Regions from separate parts of the Homo sapiens genome. Here regions 1, 3 and 4 are each reported to be linked to region 2. Evidence: microRNA targets listed by miRTarBase, many of them from high-throughput screens and not tested one by one. Region 2 holds a microRNA gene; each other region holds the end of a gene's coding sequence.

Region 1 (4,000 bases), not on the chromosome of region 2:
ATGGAGTTTCGCTCTTGTTGCCCAGGCTGGAGCAGAGTGGCTTGATCTCGGCTCGACACAGCCTCCACTTCCCAGGTTCAAGCGATTCTCCTGCCTCAGCCTCTTGAGTAGTTGGGATTACAGGTGCCTGCCACCACGCCTGACTAATTTTTTGTATTTTTAGTAGAGATGGGGTTTCGCCATGTTGGGTAGGCTGGTCTCGAATTCCTGACCTCAGGTGATCCACCCGCCTCGGCCTCCCAAAGTGCTGGGATTACAGGTGTGAGCCACTGCGCTAGGCCACTACTGACTTTCTTTCCAGAAAAGACTCATTCTCCTAAGGCAGGACATGCTGTTGTTACATTATTACATTTTATAGCCCTCAGGGCCTACTAGGCAGACTAATCCCATGATGCGATTTGCCACAAGTAAAGCACAGAATAGAGTCAGGCAGGAATGACAAAGGAGTCAAAGGAAAAACTAGGCAATGGAAGCCTGGGCTGCGGAATAACAACTTGCAACTTCACAGACATCTCATCCCTTCTCCAGACTAGAGAAGCCTTAGGGTAAATCCTAGCTCTGACACTTACTAGCTGTGTGAATTTGGGTAAATTACTTAACCTCTAAACCATTTCTAATCTGTACAAAATCTTGTAGTATCTACTTGCTTCTTCAGTTGTGGGAAGGGAGATACAGCAGAAAAAGTGTTTGGCACAATGCTGGTTTACAGCAGCCCTCAACCATCAGTGGTGCTATTATTTTCCGCAAGAAGGTGAAGGGCCATAAAAGGCCTATACAGCTGCTGAAGTTCATTGCTAAAGGTATCCAAGGCTCAAATATTTCAAGTGCAAGCTAGACATGAAATTCACAGCTATCTCTGTGAATCACCCTTGATTCCTTCACTCCCTGTGAGTTAGTCACATACACTGTAGAAATGCTGTTACTCAGGCCCTTCCTATTTACCAGGACTTCATTTTAATGTAGACGCTTTCCTGTGTGGTTTGTTCAGAAAGTCTTCTAAATCTGTCCTAATTGCCAAGTTATTTAACCCCTGCCTAACCCCCCACCACCAGAAAACCCCCCCATAAAAGCAACTTGCTTAAAACTTTCTCTCAAGTCTCCCATGCCTAGTAGGTAAGGTCTGAGTATTTTACTTTAGCATACAAGGCCATTCACAACCTGAATTAACATGGTTTTCTGAGCCTTACTTGTCACTTCCAACTCTCCAATCTAACACATCTTTCCTGTTCTTCTAACATATTTCAGTCTTTCAAACCTTCTCATCATCATGCTCTTCCCTCAGTCTAGAAGAGATGACTTTCTTCTCTACCTCACAAAATCCTACTCAACCTTCAAGACTTAGCTAAAACGCTCTTTTAAATGAAGTCTTTCCTTCAGGCTTTATATATATATATATATATATATATATATATTTTTTTTTTTTTTTTTTTTTTTTTTGAGACAGGGCTTTGTCTTACTGTCCAGGCTGTAGTGCAGTGGTGTGATCATAGCTCATTGCAGCCTCAATCTCCTGGGCTCATGCAATCCTCCCGCCTCGGCCTCCAGAGCAGCTGGAACTACAAGCACATACCACCACGCCCAGCTAACTTTTTTTACTTTTAGTAGAGATGAGGTTTTGCTATGTTGCCCAGGCTGGTCTTGAATTCCTGAGCTCAAGTGATCCTCTTGCCTTGGCCTCCCAAAGTGCTGGATTACAGGTATGACTCACCATGCCCAGCTTACAACTTAATTTTCAACACAGCACTCAACAGAACATTCTATTTCTTATGTCTGCCTTGCCCAATAGCCACTTTTTTTTATTTCAATCATTTTTCTATTTGCCCCACTGTAGCAGTAACACATTTGAAAGTACTTTGTGAAAGTGTAAATTTTAAGGGATTATACCAGTACATATACTGATCTGAAAGAGAAATGGGAAGACTGAAGGCAGAAAATGATGTGGCTTCTTTCCCTTTACCAGTTCAAGGTCTTCATAAATTTTTCTTTTTTTTTCTGTAAAAAAAGAGATGGAGTCTCACTATGTTGCTCAGTCTGGACTTTTGAACTTCTGGGCTCAAGTGATCCTCCTACCTCAGCCTCCCAAGTAGCTGGAACTACAGGCATGTGCTACCATGCCTGGCTTAGATTCTGACCTTAGCAGTCATTATATGAAGGATAACCAGTTTGTAACATGGCCTAAAATAAAATGAACAGTTCTCAGGCAGCCCACCCAAGGAAATTCACACATAATGAGAAACCAGAGATGTGTTAGAGTTAAAAGGGTAAGTATAAAAAGTTTTACTTTTTTTGTGTAATTTTTAATACAAGACATCTAAAGTCTTAAACATTAAGTTGATCCCATCAGGAACAAAATATGGCACGAAGTTCAGAAACAAGAACATCTTTTTTTTTTTTTTTTGCACTTAGGCTTTTCAGTCACTATGCAATGATTATCGATTCGCCAAGGACAGTAACAGTCAAATACTAGAGAAAAGGAGATAGGAGAAACATCTTTTATTTCTTCTAAAGAGGTGAAAATAAGATTTTTTTAATATTTCTCACTCATAAGATTTTTAAACTCTTAAAAATGCAATATCTTCTTTTCAAAGCACATGCCATCTTAAAAAAATCTTAGCAATGTACATTTGCACTCAAAGAAAAACATGCAGCGCCATTGTCTTCTGACAAAATTCTGCATTAAAAAACCCTATGCGACTTTCTGCAAATATATTCCCTCTTTATTATTCAGGGACTCCAAACCACAAACATTCAGTGCAATATTTATCGTTTCTTATTTCCGTAGGAAACACAGAACCAATGATGTCTTCTGACAACTGTTTCCTGATGGTTGAGCAACAGTCTCCCTTTGCTTTATTTTAAAGTACTTTTTTTAACTTGCTGATGTAAGGTATAATTGGAATTCATTAAAACTTGAGGATCCAATGGAGGGTGAAGAATGAAGGATGGAGGAGGAATACTTAAGGTCTACCCTGTGCCATAAACTTAGGAAAAAAATGTACACAGAAAAAAACGACAACCAAAAAACCTCAGATTTTATCAATGCACCCTTTAAAAAGTGTTTTTTTAATTTCTGAAAGCAGCTTAATGTGAATCAAAAGCAGTTCCTGAGCAACTGCAGTAAACAGTCTTTTAAAATATATATGTACATACACATGTACATATATGTGTGTGTGTGTATATATATATATTTGCAACTTAGCTCATTTGGTTCTGTCTTAATTTACCTCCCCAGCATTTAGTCCCTTCTTTCCTTTCAGTCTCCAATGTGCAAGTACAATAGCATCAGCTCTGGGAGTTGGCGTGGAGCAGATGTTTCTTATCACTCCTGTGAGGTCATCTGCTTGTCTGTCAGGCCAGGTTTCCAGAGTTGCTGCAGGTCATAGTTCTCTCAATCTCACAAAACCTGTAAGCATCATGGCCACCTCACGTTTTCTTCATCAGACGCCGTGACTGCCATGTGTGGAGCTTGTTGTAGGCTGTCTGGAGCATCTCTTCTATGTGACTTACCAACTGAAAAACACAGCAAGACACTTAACAACTGGGCAAAAGCAGGGGAAGTTAATCCTTCCAACCCAAATCTGGCACACACTTCAGAGTGTAGTTTCGGAGCTCCTCTGTATTTCCCCAGTCAATGAGGTAATGTGCAAGCCCTCTGAGAAGGTGCTGTCAGACACATTTTGTGTGGAAAGGAAAGACAGAAAGTAGGGGGCAGTGAAAAGGCTGCGGTTGTAATGGCTGTCCTGTCATTAACCAATAATAGGACAATATGAAAGTCACAATTGTGCTCCAGGCCTCAATTCCTTCTGTCAAACGAGGGGTCTGAACTATATCTGTGATTTTCTAGATTTGAATACTGGTCAGCCAACTAAGGCCAGGATGGTAGTATAAACTTTATTTTATTTTATTTTATTTTTTGAGACAGAGTCTTGCTCTGTCACCCAGGCTGGAGTGCTATGGTGTGATTTTGGCTCACTGCAGCCTCCACCTCACAGGTCCAAGC
Region 2 (4,152 bases):
ACTCGCTCTATGTGGACTTCAGCGATGTGGGCTGGAATGACTGGATTGTGGCCCCACCAGGCTACCAGGCCTTCTACTGCCATGGGGACTGCCCCTTTCCACTGGCTGACCACCTCAACTCAACCAACCATGCCATTGTGCAGACCCTGGTCAATTCTGTCAATTCCAGTATCCCCAAAGCCTGTTGTGTGCCCACTGAACTGAGTGCCATCTCCATGCTGTACCTGGATGAGTATGATAAGGTGGTACTGAAAAATTATCAGGAGATGGTAGTAGAGGGATGTGGGTGCCGCTGAGATCAGGCAGTCCTTGAGGATAGACAGATATACACACCACACACACACACCACATACACCACACACACACGTTCCCATCCACTCACCCACACACTACACAGACTGCTTCCTTATAGCTGGACTTTTATTTAAAAAAAAAAAAAAAAAAGGAAAAAATCCCTAAACATTCACCTTGACCTTATTTATGACTTTACGTGCAAATGTTTTGACCATATTGATCATATATTTTGACAAAATATATTTATAACTACGTATTAAAAGAAAAAAATAAAATGAGTCATTATTTTAAAGGTAAATCATGATTTTTTTTTTCTCCTTAATCCTTTCTCTTTTCCTTCGGGCTCATCTCTTTTGAATGAGGCTTTTTTCTGTTCAGGTGAGTTGGAGGCTGGATGGAAGTCAAAAGGTGGTACCTGGAGGTGGTTAAGTTGTAGGGACAGGAAGTAAACTGTTGGCAGAGAGAGATGGTAATTGCCAGCATGAATTGTTTTCTATTTCTATTTAATGTTAACAAGGATGCAGTATCCTCTCCCATCTGGATGACACATGCCTTGGAGAAACACTGGGATGAAAGGAGTGTAGGTCAGATTAAAGACTTCATTTCAGGCCCCTTGTACATCTTCTGTTTCACTCACCTGTTGAGGTGTATCACAGCTGAGCGTGATGAGGTCTCAACCCTAGAAAAATGATACCCACCTCTGCTTTCATGATACCTCAGGGTATCTCCAGTTATTACAGGTACCAATGTGATATTTCCAAATCAAAACTAATTTGTACACTAACATCATAATGTGTGTGTGAAGGCATGTTTTTAAACTTATTTTTTTTTTCTCCAGGTAGGACTCTTTTGTTTTTTCTTTTGTCTTTTTTTTTTTTTGAAACAAGTTCTCTCTTTGTTGCCCCAGGCTGGTCTTGAACTCCTGGGCTCAAGCAATCTTCTCATTTCGGCCTCTTTGGGATTACAGGCATGCACTGCTATTTTGTCTTTTTTTTTTTTTTTTGTAACAAATAATGTACCCTACCTTCAAAAAGTTTGATGACTACTGTTTTAATATGCCACTTGATAGAATTTCCCATTGTTTCTTGACTTTTTCCCTTGTCCTCTTTTCCCAATGTGAAGGCCTTCATCAAGTTTAGGATCCCAACAGATTGGGCTGGGTGGGGGTTGACAATGGGGTCAGATACTAAAGGGTCAGAATTTCTAAGCAGGCACTGTGAAGGTGTCCCACTATTATACAGAAATCTCGAGTCAAATGTCAACTCTCCTTTTCGCTCTGTACTGCCTCCCTCACACCCTCTTCCCTGGACTTGGGCAGAAAGAGGTAGATCTGATGTTCTGTGCTAGGGTTTCTTAAAGGGAAAAGCTCAATTTTTGGACAAAGTTAATAAAAAGGAGGATGCTAATGTACCCTCAGTTAAGGGCTCCCAGCAGGCAGATAAATGCCTTTCTGGAATGACGGGTGTAGGGATTAAGAGGAGCAGAGGAGAGGCCTTTGCTTTTTCTTACTTGCCACCAACAACTAAATTAAGCCTTGAATCTTGGTCTGTGCTGGCTCATTTCATATGTGTGCTGAGAAAATTCACACATATGAAGTGAGCCAGCACAGACCAAGATCCCTTTGGATCCCTTTGGAGCAGAAACATTTAGTGTCTTTGTATGTTCTCTGTGGGGAAGGCTGATAGCGCATTTCTCCATCATGAAGGTGTAGATATGAGCGGTAGTATTGCTGTTGCTGGTGGTGTGTGCACCCAAAGAATGTGTGTGGTGCACACTCCTGGCGTTTGCATTTTTCTAGGTGGGGTGTGCACCCTTGCATTCTTGTACACACTTTCTTACATACGCTCCTGGGAGTGGAGTGGGTGAAGCAGGATTCATTTTTGTTTTTAATTACTGAAGTCCTACACTCCTCCAAAAGGAGCAGCTTAGTGGAAACCAATAAAAATTGAAGCGGGGTGGTTGCCAAAACCCCAGCTCCCCGGAGAGCGCAGGTGGAGAGAAGACATCAGAGCCCCAGGCAAAGGCAGCAAGACTACACAGTTCCTCCAAAACTCCCCGCAAAAAGGGATCCTTCCCCCACCCCTCCAACCCCCCAGGTCGCTGCCCCTTTGATTAATGGTATGGAGCTCAAATAAATCATTTAGGGAAGCCCCTTATAGATTGCCCTCAGGCAGCCTCATTTTGTTTTGCCCAATTTCTAGCAACTTTCTGAAACGTCGATGTCATTGAAAAGGAACCAGTAGATCTCCAGTACTTGAACAAATTATCCTAGGGCCAGTACTGAGCCCTGTGGCTGTCCAGTTCTAGCAACCAGCCCCTTCCTCCATCCTCCCCGCTCCTACTGGCTTATTTTCAGGAATGGATAATGTTGTTTATTTGTTCAGCCAAATATTTGGTCTGGGGAATTTACCGTGAAATTCTGTGAATTGCATATACCTAGTTAACAAAATAGTCCTAATGCCACAAATGTTAGCATGGAAAACAAAGAGCTATGGCCAGCGTTAACTCTTTAAATTCTGTTTGAAAGCTTAGTCCTGAGACCCGGGGAGATTAAAAAAAAAATAAAAAAAATTGGATGTGTGTGATTTAGGTTTCGGCATTTACTATTTTTGCCTAATATTCAGTTCAGTACCTGACGGAAGTCGTAGGGTGATTCTCGGCGTTGCTTTTGGATCAAGCCTACCATTTCACCCCATTCATGTTTTTTTTTTTTTTTTTTCTCCAGAGTAATGTTCCTATTACTGAAAGAAAGATGGGGAGGGAAGCTCGCCCTTGAGGAGTTCGGCAAAGTCGTAACCACATCAGAGGAGCTGCTTGGTCGATCCCTACCCAACCCTTAAACTGGAACCGGCTTCCTAGGAGCTTAAAAAAAAAAAAAAAAGGTTGGGGGGGTGTGGAGTGGGACGCATCAAACATTCCCCTGCTTTCGTTGCATAATTCGCCCAGAACCTGCCAGGTGACCTGCTGACTTTGTTTTCTGTCTTGACCGTGCTTCGTTCCACACCCCCCTCGCCGCCGGGCAGCGCCACACTGAGAGGGCTCGGCGCGTCCGCGGCGCGGGCAGACCCCAGTAGTCACCCGGCCTTGGACTGGCGTCAAGATCCAGCCCCGCCGACCCCGCCTCCCGCCCGCTCTGGAGCTCCCAGGCCCGGCGGCGGCGGGGGCACCAGGGGGCGTCCTCCCTGCGGGGGACCAGGGGGACCGTGCACCTGGCGACGGCCCGCGGGAGCCGCGCGGCAGGCGGCCACCCCTCCCCATCCCCGCCGACCGCGGACTGCGGGTCCCCCAGCCCGGGCCCGAGAGCCGGCCCGCTCATCCGCCCTCGGGGACCCAGGCCTCAGGTGAAGCTCTGCAGACACAGACGGATCTGATTAGCGCTCGCTGGTCCTTGGGGCGGTCGCTCTGCAGATTTCATGCGAAATGGGGTCAAAAGGCCGCGCAGAAGCGTGGAGTCTGCAGGGGAAGGCTCCCCGGGGTGGAGGGGCTTAAGAGGGGTCGAGACCTTTAGGGGTTTTCTGTAGGGGGCAGAGAGCGGGAATTAGGGAGCGAGGCTCTCCTGCCTCCGAGCTCACAGTGGGCCTGCATATGGGGGTGACTCAATGGGAGCGGGGACGTGGGCGAGTGGGAAACAGGCCCGCTGGGTGAGGGTCGGACCTGCAGACTGGCCCTGAAGGCTGAGCCGCTGTCTTGGGCCCCTTGGGGACACGGAGAGCCCTGGGTCCCAGCTGAACTGCAGCCAGGGCCCCGCTCCCCAACAGTCGGGGGACGGAGGTGAACGGGAGAGGCCACGGGTGTGCAAGAGTGGAGCTGGACGATTGCTTTCAGAAATGAGATGCCAAGCCATGATACATAATGACA
Region 3 (4,000 bases), not on the chromosome of region 2:
AATCTCTGCTTCCTGGGTTCAAGTGATTCTCCTGCCCCAGCCTCCCGAGGAGCTAGGATTATAGGTGCCCATCACCACATCTGGCTAACTTTTGTCTTTTTAGTAGAGATGGAGTTTCACCATGTTGTCCAGGCTGGTCTCGAACTCCTGTCCTCAAGTGATCTGCCCATCTTGGGCCTTCCAAAATGCTGTAATTACAGGCGTGAGCCACTGCACCTAGCCCAAAATTCTTTTTCTTATTTTTATTTTTGGAGACAGAGTCTCCCTCTGTCACCCAGGCTGGAATGCAGTGACACGGTCTCGGCTCATTGCACAACCTCCGCCTCCAGGTTCAAGCGATTCCCCTGTCTCAGCCACCCACGTAGCTGGGATTACAGGCGTGCGCCACCATGCCCAGCTAATTTTTGTATTTTTAGTAAAGACAGGGTTTCACCATGTTGGCCAGGCTGGCCTCGAACCCCTGACCTCAAGTGATCCGCCTGTCTCGGCCTCCCAAAGTGTTGCAATTACAGGCATGAGCCACCGTGCCCGGCCCCAAAATTCTTAACATTAAGAACTGTCTTGGGCCTGTCTGGATCAGGAGTTCAACCCAGGTCCAATCAACTGGTGTGTGGGCAAGAGGGAGGAGAGGGCGAGAGAAAAGGTCACTGTGTAGAAACATAAACCCCACTCCTGAAGTCAGGCAGGTACCCAAACACTGTCACTGGAGAGAGGTCAGTCACTTCATCAGGTGCTTAGCTCTCAGTACTTAAATAAAACAGCAAAGAAGTTTGTACTTTGTTACAATTCAGAATGACCTTCCCCTCCAAATTCCTACTGAACTAGTCAAACCTCCAGTACTGTAAACTACTTACATTTCGAAAAGCTCTACTGAATGTTGAAATCCAAGTAGAAAAAGTTATAAAAAGTTACTCCCTGTTTTATTGCTGTTCACTGGATTTGGCTGACATTTGCTTTTTACTTTCATCAAATCTTACCGAATGATGAAGACACATCAAGTTACAAAGGTACCACTTTCTCTCTAATATCTTTTCTTTTTAAACAATTTGTGTCAATGTCAACAACATGATAAAGATGAAGGGTGTTCAACTGATTATTTGAACCCATAAAAACTCCACCAGGGAATCTTATTTTGTGGGCACAATGCACAGAGCCTGGAACATGGTGGGTGCTCAATGTTGGAGGAATCAAATTCCAACTTTAAAATGAGTACAAGGACCTACTTTAGATCAAATATTAAATCTGGCTAATAATTTCGGGCCACACTCCGCTTCTGTGTCTCAAAGCAGGTGGGGCAGAAAAAAGTAGCCGAGTCTCAAATTTGCTGCTATTCTCTTTATAAGCAGTTTACAACTACTTGGCATCTCTAGCTCAGAAGCACAAAATGTATATACAAAGAAATGATTAGAATTTATCTTAACTGAAAGCACTAGTTTAAACAGCCTAGAGTCTTGTAGAAATTGTTATTCCAAAACATGCAGAGGCAGCAAGAGTTGCCCAAAACCACATTTTATTCTATAACCTTTATATTGCTTTTCTGTTAAAGATTGAAGCAATGTGAAGTGGATGGAAATATTTTGTTAAAAGAACAAAATGAATTAATCACAGCATAGATGACTAATAAAAACCTTGGGTTTATGCCATACACTTCAAACACAAGGCAAAGTCCAGTAGTGGCTCATGTTCTGGGTTTTTAGAAAGCAAATGAAAATATTTGGAAAGATCAATATATTTCAACAGAAGAGCCATAAATGCCCTGAAAGCAGAAAGTTGACACAATTTTAAATAGAATTCATATATATATATTTTAAAATCAAACACAATTAAATATAATATGGTTTAAGTACATGAATACTTCAGCTTTAAAAGAATAACAGAGGTGGTACATAGTACCAAAAACTTACACAAAGCCTTTTTGCTTCTTCTGTCGATGAAACAGTGTGCCTCTATACAATCAAATATTGCAATGGAATAAATTCTCTGTTCATTCAAGACTTTCTCAAGGACAAAAGTGATTAATAATTATATATTTATACATATATATATATATTTTTTTTTTTGCAAAGTCTGAGCAAAAGCAGTAACATCTAAGAGAACTTTCTTTCCTCTCAATCATGTGCATTGAGGAAGCGCTGGCGCCACGTGGTCAATGGAGTGTGCTCACCAACTGGGCAGTCCTGCTGATGGCTGTGTGATCCCGATGCAGAAGCCAACTGAGCAGAAGTGCAGTGAGTGAGTCTCTTACTATCCTAAAGAAAGGAGAAGAAAGACGACCAACTGCACACTTTCCAGCTCACAGCAAAGAATGGGGGAGGCAGTCAAAGTCAAATGTTTCTCTCTCCCCAGTCATCCTGCTCACCTTATTTAAAAAAAAAAAAAGTATAATTTGGGAAGAACTGCTTTGTTCAAGGTGCCACAGGGGCAAAAGTGGAGTCATCGCTATTTCTTTCTTTCTTTCCACATGTATTCTGAAGGGAAAGTTAAGTAACTGGAGTGCAGAATTCCAAAGGGGCAAATCCTAATGCTCAAAGTAAACCAGATTCACACCCTTCTGTTAGCAGGGGAGAGAATGGTTTTAAGTATAGTGCATCTCAGGAGGAGGAATTAAAATGTGAAAACTATATACTGCCATCAGAGGAAGGAGGAAGTCACTGAAACTTGACCCATGACTTGTCAGTTTCCTTCCAAATTAATGCCGCTGTCAAGAAGACTGCATAATTAACTCTCACCCTGTTCCGCTGAAGCTGCTAGCACCACGCTGCCACTCAAAGCTGCCTGGCTCTCGGTGGGGCTGACTCACCTGCTTTGGAAGGACAAAGCAAACCACCTCTGGCACCTGCTTTACAATGCTGATTAGGGATGAGTTACCACTACGAGTGTGCATCAAGTATCAGTTCTATGCTTATCTGCTTCCCAGAGGATGTGGTCCCTGTCTATTCCAGTAGGCTAAAACACTCTCATAAATGGGTTATTGCCATTGGAAAACTAATAATTTTCTAGTAATGTAAACAATACCATTTTGTATCTTTAAGACTCTCACTGTGTGAACATCATGTGCATCAATTATGCCTACAGGTAACTGCATTATGGTGGAAGTCTAGGATTGTCTCCCATTCTCTCCTGGAAACAACAGTGACAGATCAGAAATATAGTGCTGTTTTCATTGGCTGTGTTGAAGAATCCAACCAAGGGAAAAAAGTTCTCTTATTTTTCACAAGCAGATTTCCTTTATCTCAAGTTTTGAGTCATAACTGAAAAAAGAAAAGAAAAGAAAATGGTAAGGTGCATTTCTCTAACAAGTGACCTATTATTACAAATTAAGGATGGACACCAACACTTAGTGTTTACTATATACCAGAGTTTAAGACAGCCAGAAGCTGACTACAATTTTGTGAGGTAAAATATTGTAATTTTCCTTGTTAAAATATGAGTGAACAGAAGCTTAAAGAGGTTACGTAACTTACCCAAGGGGCATATAACAAGGACTGGCATCCAGACTTGCTTTCCCATGTTGGCAATAGATATTAGAATGAAAAATATTGCCAATTTTCAATAGAGTAATTCTACTTCTAGGAATTAACCCTAGAGCATATTCAAGAGGGATGGTAAAGACACACATGCAGACATTCACTGACTCCCTCCTGTAGTCACAGCACTGCGGACAAATATCACGGAAGACAAGGTCCCCGGTATTGTGGCATGGGACATGTGCACATGAAGCAATTCAGTAATGGTGTGAGGTAGTTTATGCTGAATGTCCAAGTACATCCTATAGGCAAATGTCGAGTTGGAGGTTGAAGCAGAGAGGTATCAACACAGGATAAAGAGAATGAGTATTCCTTCGCAGGCCTAGGACTTCATGCATTCATAAAATCATGGAATGAGGATTAGAAGGGGTTTTTCTTTTGGGGTTTTGGTGTCGAATTTCTCTGATCTACTAATGAGGACATGAGGAACTAAAGTAGTCACCTGCAAAAGGTCACACTTACTGCCTAAAGTA
Region 4 (4,000 bases), not on the chromosome of region 2:
TGTATAGCACTGTTAATGTTTTAATATAAAATAGAATATACAGTTCATTTTATTTTAGAATTAGATCCATGGTAAATGATATTTTGGTGAGTCAACTTTCTAAATGTATAAAAATATATTTTATTTTTCAGGGGTATTTCATTTCTGCTTAATAGAATGTAACAAATGTTCTATTACAAAGCAAATTATAATATAAAACATGTTATAATTGAAAATACTTGATTTTTTGAAATCAAGATTATTTTCATTACCTGTCAGTCTCCTAGAGTTTGCGTTAAAGGAGCAAATTGATCTTTCCTTATGCTACTTTTTTGATGTCAAAAATTCATTTATTATTGTGCTCAGATGACTCCTGGTCTCCATCCTGGATCCACTCTGATTCCAATGAATAATATTTCTGTGCCGCAAGAAGATGATTATGGGTATCAGTGTTTGGAGGGCAAAGATTGTGCCAGCTTCTTCTGTTGCTTTGAAGACTGCAGAACAGGATCTTGGAGGGAAGGAAGGATACACATACGCATTGCCAAAATTGACTCTTATTCTAGAATATTTTTCCCAACCGCTTTTGCCCTGTTCAACTTGGTTTATTGGGTTGGCTATCTTTACTTATAAAATCTACTTCATAAGCAAAAATCAAAAGAAGTCTGACTAAATTCAGTAGAATCTTTTGTGCTTCAGTAACTTGAAGTTTAAATTTAAAATGCAGAGAGACCAATGGTTAAAATGTGAATAGTATTGTAACTATTTTAAGGCCTTCAGAAGTAAATAAAGTAGCAGCTTTCAGGCTAATTTACGTGAAACTGATTAGTTGCAAAATCCAGTAGGTTAAAATACTCACATATTTTTACTTAAATTTTCTTTAATTTACTTATATGTTATTATAATTTTGAATTTTTAAGTTCTATGATTCATGTTTTAAAGATGGAATAATTTTAATACATATTTTGTTTAAATATAATCTATAATTGTTTTGTAATGTAAGACTAATTACTAATATTTATGTAGCAACTTTTGTGCCAGAAAAAAGACTGTTAATTTGTTTTTTCTTGCTTTTCATTTGATTACCCTGCTTGAAATACAGTTAGTTGATAACATAAAGCCATAGTTTTCTTGGATTTTCTTCCAAGATATTGTATTCCCAAGAAGAAATTGATTTATTTTTAAACTATCAGTTACTGAAGACTTATGAAAAGGTCAATTTTTACCTGTCTTTTAATCCAGTCCATTTTCTGACACAATATTAAACAGAACGCCAGTTGCATTTACTTTGGTGATTTGCAAACTTGGAATGAAGCCACCAGTCATTTTTTAAGAATGCAAGATGAAAAAATCAGGTAAAATCTAACCATTTTATTCTCTGCTTCATAGCATTTATAATGTATGATGAGGTTAACACTGAAATATTAAAATCTGCAAATGCACATTAATGCAAATTAAATGCAGAGAGAAATGATTATTTTTTTCTTTATGTTTTATGAAAGTGTTGCAGTCCCTAAAATAAAAATATTGAGGAACATTGCTTGTATTTACTCACGTGGTTAAAAAATTATTACCTGGCAAACTGAGTTGCCGGTCATATTGAGGACAAAATCTTAAATATGTGCTATTAGCATTGTTTTTAGACTAGTAATATGCAGAAAACAGTTTTAGGCCTGCGTTACATATTGCCTCTTCCAGCTCCAAAGTTTTGGACCCTGTCAGTTTTGCAACTACATTATACATTATTATAATATTCTTTTTTTTTTCTAGAAACTGGGGGCAGCCTCAAAATCATGTTAAAGAGGGAGTTTTGTTAGAGGCATCTTTAATGAACATGAATGTGAGTGCTCTCTAAATTCTTAGCATCTCACTGGATGTAAAATCTATCAGTTAATAGTTTTAAAAATGTCTCTTTTGTTAAGAATAAATTTAGGCTTCAATCATTATAATCCTGTAAGTAGCTTGACATACCAATTGTTTATAAGATTCATCACATAAATTTCTGGAGAACCACCAGGTTTAGCTTGGAAATAACCTTTAAAGATTGTTTCTGTTGCCAAGACCAATGACCATGATGAAGAGTTTTATGATCACAGCCTATCTTACTTAAGGTTTGAGAGGAAACCTGTCACCTCTGCAATTGTTACTCTAGTTTTTAATGTTATAATTCCGCTGCGTGGTTAGTGAATGTCTGGCATGATTATACACGTGTATTGGAAATATCTAGTTTTTTAAATTTTTAATTAATTTATTTATAATTTACTGTGTGTTCCCAGCTAACTCTATTTTTTTTTTCACTTGCTCATAAACTTCTGGAAAAAAATAAGCATGAATCAAATGGTAATGCCCAATATCCACCGACACTGCTTTTCTTGAATGAACAGCCAAACTAAACTTTGGCCATCTATATATTCATTTACAGATTATTCATACATTCATTTTAATAACATTGAGTACTGATGGATGTTTTGAAAGTGAGCATTCATTTAAGGATAAATAAAAAATAAAGTAGTAATAAAGAATAAAATACTTTACTAAAATATTGTATGGCTATTTTCATGTTTGAAGCTATAGCTTACTATCATGAGACAGTTTTGATTTTGGGACTCTTTCAAGTGTATCTGAGCATGACTGTATTTTAAAATACTTAAAAGTGCTTGATATAAATAGCTTTTCCTTCTGAACCACGTTCTATGTAAAAGAAAAAAAATAGCTTTGATTTTCTCACTGGTGTTTCATTAACTTGGTTTTAAATGTTGACAATATTTACAAGTGGAAATAAAATTTGTAAATATATGAAAGATGCCTTTCCTTGTATATACCATCAAGCAAGCACTTTGTTTTCAAAGCAAGTGGTATTTTGATCAGTTTTATTTAAATGTGTGATCAGAAAGAATGGCGTACAAATCTTATTATTTCTAAAAATAAGAATAAAAAGGTAAAACTACATTTAGACTTCTTTCTCAAGAAATCAAATACAGCTTTTTTTCAAAGCTGATTCAGTTCATTTCCTGTTCCTCTATTCCAAGTATAAGTTTCACCACCTTGAGAAATAATTTTTTTAAAAAATCTTCCTCTTTCTCTGGGGAGTTATATAATAATTTATTGAATTTATTGGAACTTGATTTTCCTGGATGCTTTCAATGTTTTTAATGCTAACATAGACCCCAAAATTAGATATAAAGAATTGGGAAGGATACCTGGAGCACAAGGAATAAGATCATTTGTAAAAATGTTTGTTTATATAGACCTATCCTCTAAATATGTGACAAGGATCTAGAAATTCTGAGAGGGGAAAATGTGATTTTGGATTTACAATGACAGGGTAATATTTTATTTATCTTCGAATTCCATGGACAAAATTAGGCTCACTTAAATTAATTTTTGTAAACCCAAGTAAGTTCTAAAAAAAAGTAAAAAATACATAGAATACTTGAGAATTTAGCAGGGACAGGGAAAAATTTCCCAGTAAGTCTGAAGTCTTGATGTAAGTGGGAATTAGATAACTAATTGGAGGCATTTTATTTTAAGTTAAAGACAGATTTCTTTAATAAGTTTTTAAAATTGATCAACTTTAAATTAAGCACAGTAAATGTGTATAAATATGAAGGCAATCATAAGGATTTTTTCACTTGTGTTTCCATATTCTGGCATTAGTATATCATCATAAAATAGACAATGTTTTTGTCTCAAGAACAAGAATAAAATTGAAATCTGCATTCATGCCAATTCAGCATAAAAAAGAATAGGCTACAGTTCTCTCACACCAAGGGCCCCATAGTTATAAATGTGAAATTATATTCCAGGTCAAAATTTGTGAAAAATACACAAAACACTTTGATTTTACAAGAGAGGAGCTTTAAATAAGATGATTTTAGTAGATTGAAATAAATAACCAGTATTTAAGTAAATGTATAACGAATGAATAAATACATGCATAATATTTTCAAAGTTCTATACCAGTACCTATTTTTACTCTTACAAAATTTCCTGTAAAAAAATACTACATTTGAAATTATTT

The links. The annotated mature microRNA hsa-miR-5580-3p reads CACAUAUGAAGUGAGCCAGCAC and lies in region 2 at 1,880-1,901, shown strand. An mRNA with a match to its seed (bases 2 to 7 or 8) in the 3' UTR can be bound and repressed. Matches are read on the target gene's strand: a 7mer-m8 pairs with bases 2 to 8, a 7mer-A1 pairs with bases 2 to 7 and ends in A, and an 8mer does both.
Region 1: the mRNA of GTF2H1 is a reported target of hsa-miR-5580-3p. Seed matches in the 3' UTR shown: 7mer-A1 at 3,156-3,162.
Region 3: miRTarBase lists AKAP10 as a target of hsa-miR-5580-3p. Seed matches in the 3' UTR shown: 7mer-A1 at 2,034-2,040.
Region 4: the mRNA of GABRG1 is a reported target of hsa-miR-5580-3p. The part of its 3' UTR that is shown has no 7-base or 8-base seed match.

Annotation. Positions count from the first base shown.
Region 1 is chr11:18,365,293-18,369,292 of GRCh38, reverse strand. It overlaps GTF2H1 (general transcription factor IIH subunit 1), which reads right to left. Exons shown (of 15, transcript NM_005316.4): 15 at 2,248-3,510. The coding sequence ends at 3,424. Among named protein-coding and RNA genes, the nearest start is that of MIR3159, 20 kb to the left of the region's middle.
Region 2 is chr14:53,946,176-53,950,327 of GRCh38, reverse strand. It overlaps MIR5580 (microRNA 5580), which reads left to right and starts at 1,844; the gene lies at 1,844-1,901. It overlaps BMP4 (bone morphogenetic protein 4), which reads left to right. Exons shown (of 4, transcript NM_001202.6): 4 at 1-592. The coding sequence ends at 296. RefSeq lists a silencer at 3,429-3,478 and enhancers at 3,449-3,979, 3,980-4,152.
Region 3 is chr17:19,902,982-19,906,981 of GRCh38, forward strand. It overlaps AKAP10 (A-kinase anchoring protein 10), which reads right to left. Exons shown (of 15, transcript NM_007202.4): 15 at 1,321-3,251. The coding sequence ends at 3,246. Among named protein-coding and RNA genes, the nearest start is that of ULK2, 37 kb to the left of the region's middle.
Region 4 is chr4:46,037,600-46,041,599 of GRCh38, reverse strand. It overlaps GABRG1 (gamma-aminobutyric acid type A receptor subunit gamma1), which reads left to right. Exons shown (of 9, transcript NM_173536.4): 9 at 346-4,000. The coding sequence ends at 612. Among named protein-coding and RNA genes, the nearest start is that of GABRG1, 84 kb to the left of the region's middle.